Homo sapiens: one gene and its partners. The protein of the gene in region 1 purifies or fractionates together with the protein of each later gene. This does not show direct contact. Each region holds a gene or a part of one and is shown in the gene's direction. Other genes may lie near its edges. The genes, in order: TMEM196, PCP4 and ZMPSTE24.

The links.
Region 2: the proteins of TMEM196 (region 1) and PCP4 purify together in Homo sapiens (affinity purification with mass spectrometry; one large-scale study listed by BioGRID and IntAct). This does not show direct contact.
Region 3: the proteins of TMEM196 (region 1) and ZMPSTE24 purify together in Homo sapiens (affinity purification with mass spectrometry; one large-scale study listed by BioGRID and IntAct). This does not show direct contact.

Annotation. Positions count from the first base shown.
Region 1 is NC_000007.14:19,725,007-19,728,662, reverse strand, and holds part of TMEM196 (transmembrane protein 196), read left to right. Parts: intron 1-2,894; coding exon 2,895-3,149; intron 3,150-3,656. UniProt on the Homo sapiens protein: Acts as a tumor suppressor in lung cancer. Inhibits tumor cell growth by inhibiting cell proliferation and migration and promoting cell apoptosis.
Region 2 is NC_000021.9:39,898,366-39,902,021, forward strand, and holds part of PCP4 (calmodulin regulator protein PCP4), read left to right. Parts: intron 1-110; coding exon 111-162; intron 163-3,656. UniProt on the Homo sapiens protein: Functions as a modulator of calcium-binding by calmodulin. Thereby, regulates calmodulin activity and the different processes it controls.
Region 3 is NC_000001.11:40,271,661-40,275,316, forward strand, and holds part of ZMPSTE24 (CAAX prenyl protease 1 homolog), read left to right. Parts: intron 1-233; coding exon 234-375; intron 376-3,656. UniProt on the Homo sapiens protein: Transmembrane metalloprotease whose catalytic activity is critical for processing lamin A/LMNA on the inner nuclear membrane and clearing clogged translocons on the endoplasmic reticulum.

The DNA of each region.
Region 1 (3,656 bases):
ACACAAATTGGCAAAATTAATACTACACAGGGACCCTAGGAAGTACCCTTTGAGCCTAAAGAGAGTTTTCCAAGGTGAGGCCAGTTATCTGAGCAGATCAGGGAATGGGAAGCATTGCAGTTATTTTTATTTGACCCCTTTTTCTAATCACATCTTTCTTCGTGAGAACATCTATTATGGCAAAAAGGCTAAAGCCCTCACTGCTTTAGACAGCAATTTTAGATGTAATTTTTAAAAATTACATAAAGGGAAAAATGAAACCTTTAGAAAAAAATGTATTTTTTCAGGCTTGTAACTTGCATTTATGATTCTCCCATCATTTTTTACACATGGTCTTCATTCTCCTTATGCCCTTCCTCTACGAAGACTCTTTATGACTATGTAGGAACAACTCCTTGGGAGAAAGCAAGTAAACAAGCAAGGAAGCATGACAAAAGGAAAGAGAAAGAGAAAAAAGAGAGAGAGAAAGAAAGAGGAGGGAGGGAAGGAAAAAATAAAAAAGGAAGGAAGAGGCTTTTTGTTGTTGTTGTTTTATACAAAGGCAATAGTGGCACTTCTCTGTCTTTCTCTTATAAATTACAAGGAAAAAAATGATGAAATCTGATTTTTTTAAGAAACTACCGCCCAGGTGGTAGCTGTACCTACTATTAGAAGGTACATTATCCTGTGTACTTTCTAAGGTCCCCATTGATGGCATTTAACTATCAATATTTTCTACATTTTAATGAAATTAAAAAAAAATTTCACTCCAAATATATCTGCAGTCTAGAGTCTCCAACCTGGTGAAATTTGAAAATAGTATATGGTTACAGATTTAAACATTTTAATTCCTGGATAAGATTGTTTTGTTAACACATGTTAATGAGGTGTCATGCCTTTAAAGAATTAATCAGAATGACATCAGCAAAGACATGGGCTTTCCTGTAACAGAAAACTAAAGGTATTGTCTGCTTTCTCTATAACAATAATTAATTATTTGAAGCTAGATTTTAATATCTTTCCGTATTTTCAGAGAATGAGTAAACACCAAAATATATCCCCAAAGAACAGCATGACATCCAAATCTACTTTAAAATAAAATATAATTGGTTAATTCTACTAGGCATCTTGAGCTACAAGTTTACACTTAGTAGGATGATTTAATTATTTGGTAACTGATCTTCAGTATTATATTTAATCAAGTATAAAAAGATTTTACCCGTTCATTATTGGATTTTTAGCTCTGATGATATTTACAGATGCAATAAGGAATGCTGAATTAAGTTGAAGAAATGAAATTAACTACTTGTAGTTACTGACCTGACATATTCTCAAGAAAGCCTTCTCCAAAAATCTTGGCTGGGCTAAATTCTTCTCCTCCCTACTCCTAGGGCAACACATGTATCCCTTTCTTAATACTTATCATGCCATGTTAAAATTCTGGATCTTCTCTTTCACAAGATTTAACTATTCTCAAGAGGAATTATTATGAATGATTGATTGTAATGCCAGCAGCTGCTGCACTCAGGGGCTAACAGATGCTAAGTGCTCAATAAGTGCAGGCTAAACTCAACCGTCAATGAAAAATAATATCTGATAAAATAAAATTAAATGTTAAAGTGAGTTACAAAGCTGTTTGACCTGGGGAATTACAACAAAGGAGGAGATCAATAAAGTCCAAGTTAGGACTTAATTTGTGCCTTTCATCCATGAGTCTAAGGAAGAAGCAAAATTATTTCCAGGAAATGAAAAATGTCACTGATGTGGGAATGAGTAACCCATATTGAAGGACAAGAGAGGTGACTGGAATAAGTCTGTGTTCCCGAGAAGAATGGAAATTAGATTGCATAATTCAATTAGTATCATAGTACAAAGTATCATGAAAGCCCATAGAAGAATTTAGACCAGATGCAAAAAGAAAATATAATTATTAAAGTTATTTGACTAGTTAATTAAATTTATTAAATATTCACAAAGTACTTACTTCTCAGAAAGCATTATTCTTGGTTCTGCCAGGGATCCTATGATAGTTGTTGATTAAACCCCCCTAGCTCTATTAATAGACACCGAGATTCAACCAATAGTAGGACCAAAAGCAAAGCCACATCATCTGTTTCTCTAAAACGAACAAACGAACAGTATTTTTGGAACGCCTATTGTATATTCTTCAATGATGATAGTGCCACAAAGTAATAAAATATTTGTAATATATAGGGGTCAGTTCATAGGAGTCCCTAAAGTACTTGCTTAGGAAATACATGCACAATGAAATATGAGTGAACTTTTTTTTAAAAAAAGAGATTTAACTAAATTTCCTAAGCTCACATAGGTAGGAAGATATAAAGATTTGAAGTTAGGTGGAACTAATGACAATCCAAAGAGAAGCTATTGAGATATTTTTGAAGGACTGACACAGTGAAAGTAGATTTGGAATCAGAAAAATCTGGGTTTGGTGCCTAAATTTAGTGTTAGCTATTGACCATTCATTTTTCTAAAACGTATGTTACTATCTCAGAGGCTTGCTGGGAGTGTCAATTGAGATGATATTTGTTAAAGTTCCTAGCATGGTAGCACACGGTAGATGTTAAATAAATATTTAAATCTGAATCTACCTAGACGATAAATTTTGTTTGCTTCAGAGTTTTCATAAGCTATATCCTTGGCTTTAATATAGTCAGCTATCAATTTCTGAAACACTGTGGTATACTCCCTCTGTCTACTGTGAGTCAGAGTGAATAGAAACTTGGCAAAAATAAAATGTAAAAAAAAAATCTCCTGTCCTCTGTGAAGCACCAAAACCGCTTATTCTTCTTTATTGTAGGCTAGTCATCCTTGACATGCAGCCGGACAGGGCAACTGTGTTCTGGTCAGGTTTGCCTTTTCAACTTTAACGCTGCCTTTCTTTTTCTTATCAGATGATCCTCTTTTCAGCCTGCTGTATCTGTGGACTTATTGGGGGCATCCTGAATTTTCAGTTCCTCCGGGCAGTCACAAAGAAAACTTCCTCCCTATACCCACTGCACCTTGCCTCCATGTCTCTCGCGTGCATTGGGATCGGGGGCTGCACTCTCTCTTCCTGGCTCACTTGTCGACTAGCCAGTTATGAACAGAGGAGGATGTTCTCAGAAAGGGAGCATTCCCTGCATCACTCTCATGAAATGGCTGAGAAAGTGAGTTTTGTACCTTTTCCTCTCACTGCTAGCACATGATGAAGACTGAAGTCCACTCTGGGTGAATCAACTTGAAACTTTAGATCACAATTTGAGGAATCAGATTTTATACATTTGGCTCTATTGGGTTAAGAATAGAAATTTTATTTTATTTTTCTCTGCAATTCATGGGTACACCTATTTTCAACAACATTTTGTAGTCTGTCTATTCAAAAACACAGTGCTTAAAATAGTATTTCATAAAATATTGAATACCCTATAAATATGGATTTTTATGTATTATACTGAGGAAAAACACAGATACTAAATACACTCTCCACTCAATAATGCCAGTTTTAGAAATTGCATGAATTCCCTTTTCTAGCTCTTCCCTTGTTCTATTAAGGAGATGCATTTGATTATGTAAATTTGATCTTCAAGTATAAAGGGGCTTTTTAATAAGGTGACAAAAAGCCTTGTCTATCAGTGCAGATATTACAGTCCATATAAAGCTTCATTTAATTCTCA
Region 2 (3,656 bases), on another chromosome or scaffold:
AACATAGAACTTGATATAATGCAAGAGATGTTTGCAACAATAAAAGAGACAAAAGTAATCCCGAGTATATCTGATAACAATTGCTTTTTTCTTTTATTTTTTGCCTTTAGCGACAAGGTGCTGGGGCAACCAATGGAAAAGACAAGACATCTGGTGAAAATGGTAAGAGGACATGAATAGTCCAAGTTCTTTCTCTTTTGCCATCTGCAGCCCTGGGTATGCAGCAGGTGCGGATCATACATCCCATCCCAAACAGCTTACTATATGTGTCTGCGCTTCAGCTTACAGAGGATTTTAGCAATTCACAGTGAGCACTGAGGTCTGGTTTTATGAAGAAAACTGAGCTAGCTAAATGCCGTGATAAGAAGTTTCCCTTCCATAGGAGGACTCCCATTTTGGGCAACATGGTAATTACAATGCAAATCTAGTTCTCTGCTTTCTTCATTAGGGTGGGTGAGAATCATCCAAGTTGTTGTGAGGATAAAATGAGATCAAACGAGATAAGTGATTTGAAAACTGTGAAGTACACAACTTCTGAAATGATGTTTTAAAACTTGCTTCAGCCCTCCGGAGCACACACAATGCGGTGCTGGTCCACTGGAAGGTGCTGAGTCAGTGAATGTCACTGCAGCGATTCACCAGCAAATAAAAATGATAGCAGTGACAGGAACATTGCATCCTGCCTCTTCATGGGCCCATCTCAACCATGACCCTAAATTGTAGGAATGATCATCATATTTTTATGGATCAGGAAATGGAGGCTTGGCATTGGGGTGAGATTTAGCTAGAAATGGGAAGTGCATGGATCCTGAAGGAAATAGAGCCAGTTGGAACCCCAGGTCTCTAACTTTAGCAATTGACATAAGAACAAGCATAATAATAAAAAATACCCAGTGGTATGCACCAAGGGCCACAGCATAGTTCCGGTGAGGTGAGACTCTGGGTGTTCTTCCTTTCTGTTAACTCAAGATGAACTCTCCTTTTATGGAAAATGACTCTTGCTTCCAACTAGATGAAATTGATGCTAGTGTCCATCAATCAGATTGTGGATAATGCCAATCTCAAATACCATCGGTTAAAATTCCCTGGGGCCTCACAACCCCTTTGGAGCCTCTGTGGTGGGTCTGAGCTGAGCAAGACTCAAGTATGAGAATGTTGCTCTGCGTCTGCAGCCTGCCAATATGCCCACCCATTTAGGGCAGTCCTATTGGGCAGGGTGAGTGCAGTGTTCCCTGGGTAAAGGGGTCATCATATCAATAAGTAGAGAGGTGGGGGCTCCACAATGTCCTAATTGGAGCTAGGGGGCTGGGAGAAGAAGGAAACAAGGTTTTCCATGAGGCCAATGGCTCTTCCTTTGCTGCCCAGGGCTTTTCCTGTCTCCTGTGTGTGAGTTGGGGTGGGTGTGTGGGGTACTGGCAAGGAAGGCAGGAAGCAGAGGAAGGAGCAAAGGATGGGGCTTAAAAGGGAGGAGCAATATTGTAGTTGCCTATATGAGGAAGGACCCACTGCCTGCCATAGGGGAGCATAGGGCGCTGTGAGCCTCCACTGATTTTCCCAGTTCATACATTCGTAGCCATCTGTTCATGCAAGTTCCTTTCCACTGAACCTCACAACCTTAGAATTAGAGTTTTACAGTCAGAAGACTTCTCAGAGATCCTCTATTGTCGTGATTCTCAACTTTTTTTTGAGACAGAGTTTCACTCTTGTTGCCCAGGCTGGAGTGCAATGGGACAATCTCGGCTCACTGCAACGTCTGCCTCCAGGGTTCAAGTGATTCTCCTGCCTCAGCCTCTTGAGTAGCTGGGATTACAGGCACCCACCACCACGCCTGGCTAATTTTTGTATTTTTAGTAGAGACAGGATTTCACCATGTTGGCCAGGCTGGTCTCGAACTCCTGAACTCAGCTGATCCACCCGCCTCGGCCCCCCAAAGTGGTGGGATTACAGGTGTGAGCCACTGCACCCAGCCAACATTTTTGTTCTCACAACTCCTTTCCATTTTAAAGAATTCTTGAGGACCCCAAAGAACTTTTGTTTATGTTGGTGATATCTATTGATGTTTGTCATGCTGGAACCCTACTGACTCTTATAGAGATGGTACTGAAGAAAAGACCTGGAGCCAGTGAACAAGACATAGGATTTATTGAGGGGAGTTACCTATAGGGCAGTCCAGTGGCGGTGGGCTGGATAAAAGAACCACAGCTGCCTGTAACAAGCATGCAGTTTACACAGCGTTTTCACTTAGCACCCTCCCTCTAGCAACTTCTACTTGGCAATCTACATTCATTCCAAAACAAATGTCCCCAATCCCCTGTATGGCCTGCATCCCATGGGATGGGCTGGGAATTCAGATGTTCCTCATAGATAAGAATGAATCTCTATACTGGCCACTCCCAGATTCCTTAGCTCGGAACTCGACTCCAAGCACACATTCTTCTTAGACCATAGGGTCATTCTCAGGGTATGCTTAAGTTACGCTATTGATATCAGGTGTATCTGCCATACACTGTCTCCTATATTAGAAATTAAAATGGAGAAAGTTTTAAATGGTTTTTCTTATTAATTTATTAAAAATAAAATAATAAACCCACTACATGTGAATGTAAGTAACATTTTAAAAAATGAAAAGTCATTATATTTTCCAAAATGGAAAAGGATATTTAGTAAAAAGTGGCAATTTTACATTTCTGCAACTCTCTTTAAAGTCTGGTTTGACAGAGGACAGCTGGATTTTCATACTGGCTTCTGTGTTCAATCTGTTATATCATGTGATGTGTAGCCTATGGAAAATTCCACTGCTCACTTGTGAGAGTATGAGATTTAAAAGAGCAAATAATATCCTTTAAGATCAAACTCTTACCTTTTATAATAATAATATCTTTTATAAGACCAAAAATGTTTTTGATCTTTTGGGCTCCCTTAAAGGATGTAGGCACCCCCCAGGGTACCTGGTTCACACTTTGGGAACTACTGCTCAGCATGTCTCATGTCATGCCTTGAGGAGCCTGAAGACCAGGCACATGGTGACGAAGCCAGGACTAGGTCCTATGTGTTCGATGTCTCTGCCCCTTGGCTTTATCTTGACATCCTATTGGTCTTTCAAACCATGCTGACATGCTCAGTGCTTTGCACCAAAGGGAATTACCGGCTACTATAAGTGATGCCATTTTCTGCCATTCAAAGACATGGAATTTCTTTTAGCTGAAAACCAGTCCACACCAGTGGAAACTGAGTGAGGTTTTTTATGGAGGTATAAAAATTAATTAAATGGAAATATTCCTGATGCTATGAATAAGGCTTTTCATTAGATAATTCTAGATATTAAATGATAGTCACTTTTGGGTAGAAAAGTGAATTTGAGATTATTTTACAGTTACTGGATAATGGCAATGTATAAATGTAAATTATTATTAACATGCTATACTTTAATTTCAGCTAAAACTGCCTATATATGATATTTGTACGTGATACTTTATTATAATTTAAAGTCTGTGCTTTTGCCTTTAAAAAGGAGCAAAGACAAAAACTGGAACAGCCCAAGAAAGATGAGGGTAAAAACTTCTAGAAGTAATCTAAAAAACATTTTCCTAAAGAATTGAAGTTACTTAATTTTTTATTCTTAAATTCCTGATATGAGACGATCATCTTGGAATTTC
Region 3 (3,656 bases), on another chromosome or scaffold:
AAATTCATAAGTTTACTCTGTTATCAGACTACTCATTTCAATTTAATTCATCAGACAGATATTATGCTCTTACTATCTGGTACTATTTGGGCCTGGGAATACCAGAGCAAGTAAGTTCCTTGTTCTCAAGTTTGAGGTCAACATAGTTGTTTTAATATAATTTAATCTGTATAATAAAGAATGTTTTTTCTTTAAGAACATGTTCATATGTTATTCTGACATTTACTTTTCAGGTTCTTGTCACAATCTATGCTGATTATATTGCCCCTTTATTTGACAAATTCACACCTCTGCCTGAGGGAAAGCTTAAAGAAGAAATTGAAGTAATGGCAAAGAGTATTGACTTTCCTTTGACGAAGGTGTATGTTGTGGAAGGTAAGGCTACCTGGGGATAAGAAAGTTTTATCCAAGTGGTTTGTTTTATTTGATACTTTATTCTTAAAATTTTAATAAAAGAATTAATCAGTTTTTGTTTTTTTCTTTTTAAAATTTGTTATTTAAAGGCTAGGAGTTTACCTTTTGGCTTTTTAAGATTTACAGAAATTGATAACATAGGCCAGGGATAGAAACTGGTGGCTTGATACCAAATCCTGCTCTTGTCTGCAGCTATGTTTGTTTGGTTTTACAGTATTGTTTTAAATTTTTGGCCAAGGCTTTTTCACTCTCTGTTATGTTATCTTATATATTAGACTGATTTATTCACTTCTGTTATCTGCCTAGTTCTTTTAGGTAGTTAAGTTGGACTCTTGAATAGTCAAATTCTGTTTAGTATTAGTTTGGAGGCTCTTAAACAAAGCCAGTGTTATTGGCCTTGTCTCCTCCAAGAAAATATCCAGTGTTCTGGAGGACTCACCTGAAGATTGATTACCAAAGACTGCAGTACCACTGAGTACTGCAGATTTGTTATACTCTGCTTTTTTGATGATTACTTTTGAGATTTAAGTGGTCTCTTGACCGTTACTCAAATCTTGACTTCCCATTAACACCCAGTCTATTACTTTCTTTGAGACTTTGGTAGTTGACTATTAAAGTCTCAAAGAAGACTACGGAGATGTAGAGAGAAACTGTTGTAAGGTTCTATGACTTTCAGAATTTATAAAGTCCATATAAATGAATGTAATAGTTCTGTTCCTGCCACTTACCAGTTATAGGATCTTGGACAAGTGACTTCACCCTTCTGGGTTTCAGTTGTATTTCCTCTAAGCTATGGTTTCACAAATGTTTTTTGTAAAGGGCTAGATAGTAAATATTTTAGCTTTGCGGGCCACTTGTTCTCTGTTGCAACTATTCAGTGCTACTATTATAGCGCAAAAGCAGCCATAGACAATACTAAACAAATGAGTGTGGCTGTGTTCCAATAAAACTTTATGAAAATAAATGGCAGATTGGATTTGGCCTGTGAGCTACAGTTTGCTGATCCCTGCTCTAAAATAAAATATTACCAGTGAGAAGCAGCAGTGTTAGATGAAGGAATAGAAGCAGAAACAATCACAGGGTTAGAGGAGAACAGAGATGGTCACAACTGAAAAGAATGAATCAACAGCAACTGGAAGAACATAGAAATTTCAGACATCTGGCTGGGCGCTGTGGCTCACGCCTGTAATCCCAGCACTTTGGGAGGCCAAGGCAGGCGGATCACCTGAGGTCAGGCGTTCGAGACCAGCCTGGCCAACATGGTGAAACCCTGTCTTTACTAAAATACAAAAAATTAGCTGGGCGTGGTGGTGCGTGCCTGTAATCCCAGCTACTTGGGAGGCTGAGGCAGGAGAATCGCTTGAACCTGGAGGTGGAGGTTGTGGTGAGCCAAGATCAAGCCATTGCACTCTAGCCTGGGCAACAAGAGCCAAATTCTGTCTAAAAAAAAAAAAAAAAAAAAAATATATATATATATATATATATATATATATATGTCAGACATTTAGTGGCTCCTGAGGATATACAGCCCAACTAAAGGCACGATTGGAGTAGCTTAAAAGTCTGTGGAGAAATGGTAGAATAAGCCAGTTCATACTTACTTCTTTAGCCTCTGAAATAACTACTCTTTTTTTTTTAGGTAATATTAAACTAGAAATTTAATCATTAATCAGTACAACAGAATAGTCTCTAAGCTGCTTTTACTGAAGGAGCAACCTAAGTTGCTGATCCCTTAAGTTACAATCAGATAACGTGAAATAATAGTTAATGCTATGACAGTGGAGGTAGTCAATAGAATATGTGAAATATATCGGTGCTATTTTCTTTTTATCTTTTTTTTTCCCCCTACAACATCCAGAGTATGAGAGCTATTTTCATTTTAGATAAAATAGTCAGGGAAGGCTTTATGGAAGGTTATGACCTGAGCTGGGTGTTAATGGGAAGTCAAGATTTGAGTAGGTTGGGGGCAGCATTTCAGACGTCAGGCTTCAGGGTCAAAAGGCTTGGGTTTGAATCATAGCTCTACCACAGATTACCAGTGCTGGGCTTGGTGGCTCCAGCCTGTAATCCCATCTACTGGGGAGGCTGAGGTGGAAGGTCAGGAGTTCGAGACAAACTACTTGTGTGACTTTGCGCAACTTAGCTTTGCCAAACAGCAGTTTACTCACCTATAATGTATGTTTTAATTGTTGTTAACAACAGTAACAATTCTCAAAAATATTTTGAATGAATGAATGTTGTTGCTGACAATAACAACACACATTACATATTTGTAAATTGGTAGGGAGATTGTAGTGAAAAGCCAAGAATCTTGCTCTCAAAATATTATCAGATAGCAAGTGCTATGCAGCAAATTAAACTAGTTTGGTCTGATAAGTTGATACTGTAGATTGGTCATCAGATTGAGCTGAGACCTAAAGGGAGGAGCCGCCCATTTGACGTCAATGGGAAGATGTTCAAGGACCATGAAGAAGTCCAGTGTGGCTGCACCATAGCAGGAGAGTGTTAGGAGATGAAATCTGAGACATAGGCAAGAATCAGTCCACATAGGCCTTTGTAAGTCAGGGTAAGGAGTTTGGATTTTGAGTTCAGTGGGAAGAGCCATTGAAGGCTTAGACAGGAAAGTGACATGATCTGCTTTGTGTTTTTAAAATATCCTGGGCTACTGTATGGAGAATATGTTGTAGAGACAGGCAAAAGTCTAGGTAGGACATAATGGTAGCTTAGACTAGGATAATAGTAATTAATGGAGAGAAGTGGATACATTTGGGACAAGTTTTAGGGTAGAGTTGATTGAATTTTCTAATTGATTGCATTGGGAGAATAAGGGAAAGAGTGACATCAAAGATAATGGCCTAGACTTTTGACCTGAGCAGTTAGATATATGGTAGTTTCCTGAGATGGAAAAAAATAGGAGAAGAGTAGGTTTGTGGGGAATTAAGACTTCTAATGGCTATATTACATATTGAGGAACCTACTAAACATTGTATTAGAATTCTGCAAGCAATAGAAACCAACTGTGGCTGATTTAAGCAGAAAAACTGCTTATTGAAGCACTATTTGGACCAGGCGCAGTGGCTTATGCTTGTAATCTCAGCACTTGGGGAGGCCGAGGTGGGCGGATCACTTGAGGTCAGAAATTCGAGACAAGCCTGGCCAACATGGTGAAACCCTGTCTCTACTAAAAATACAAAAAAAAAAAAAAAAAAAAAAGCCGGGCGTGGTGGCGGGCGCCTGTAGTC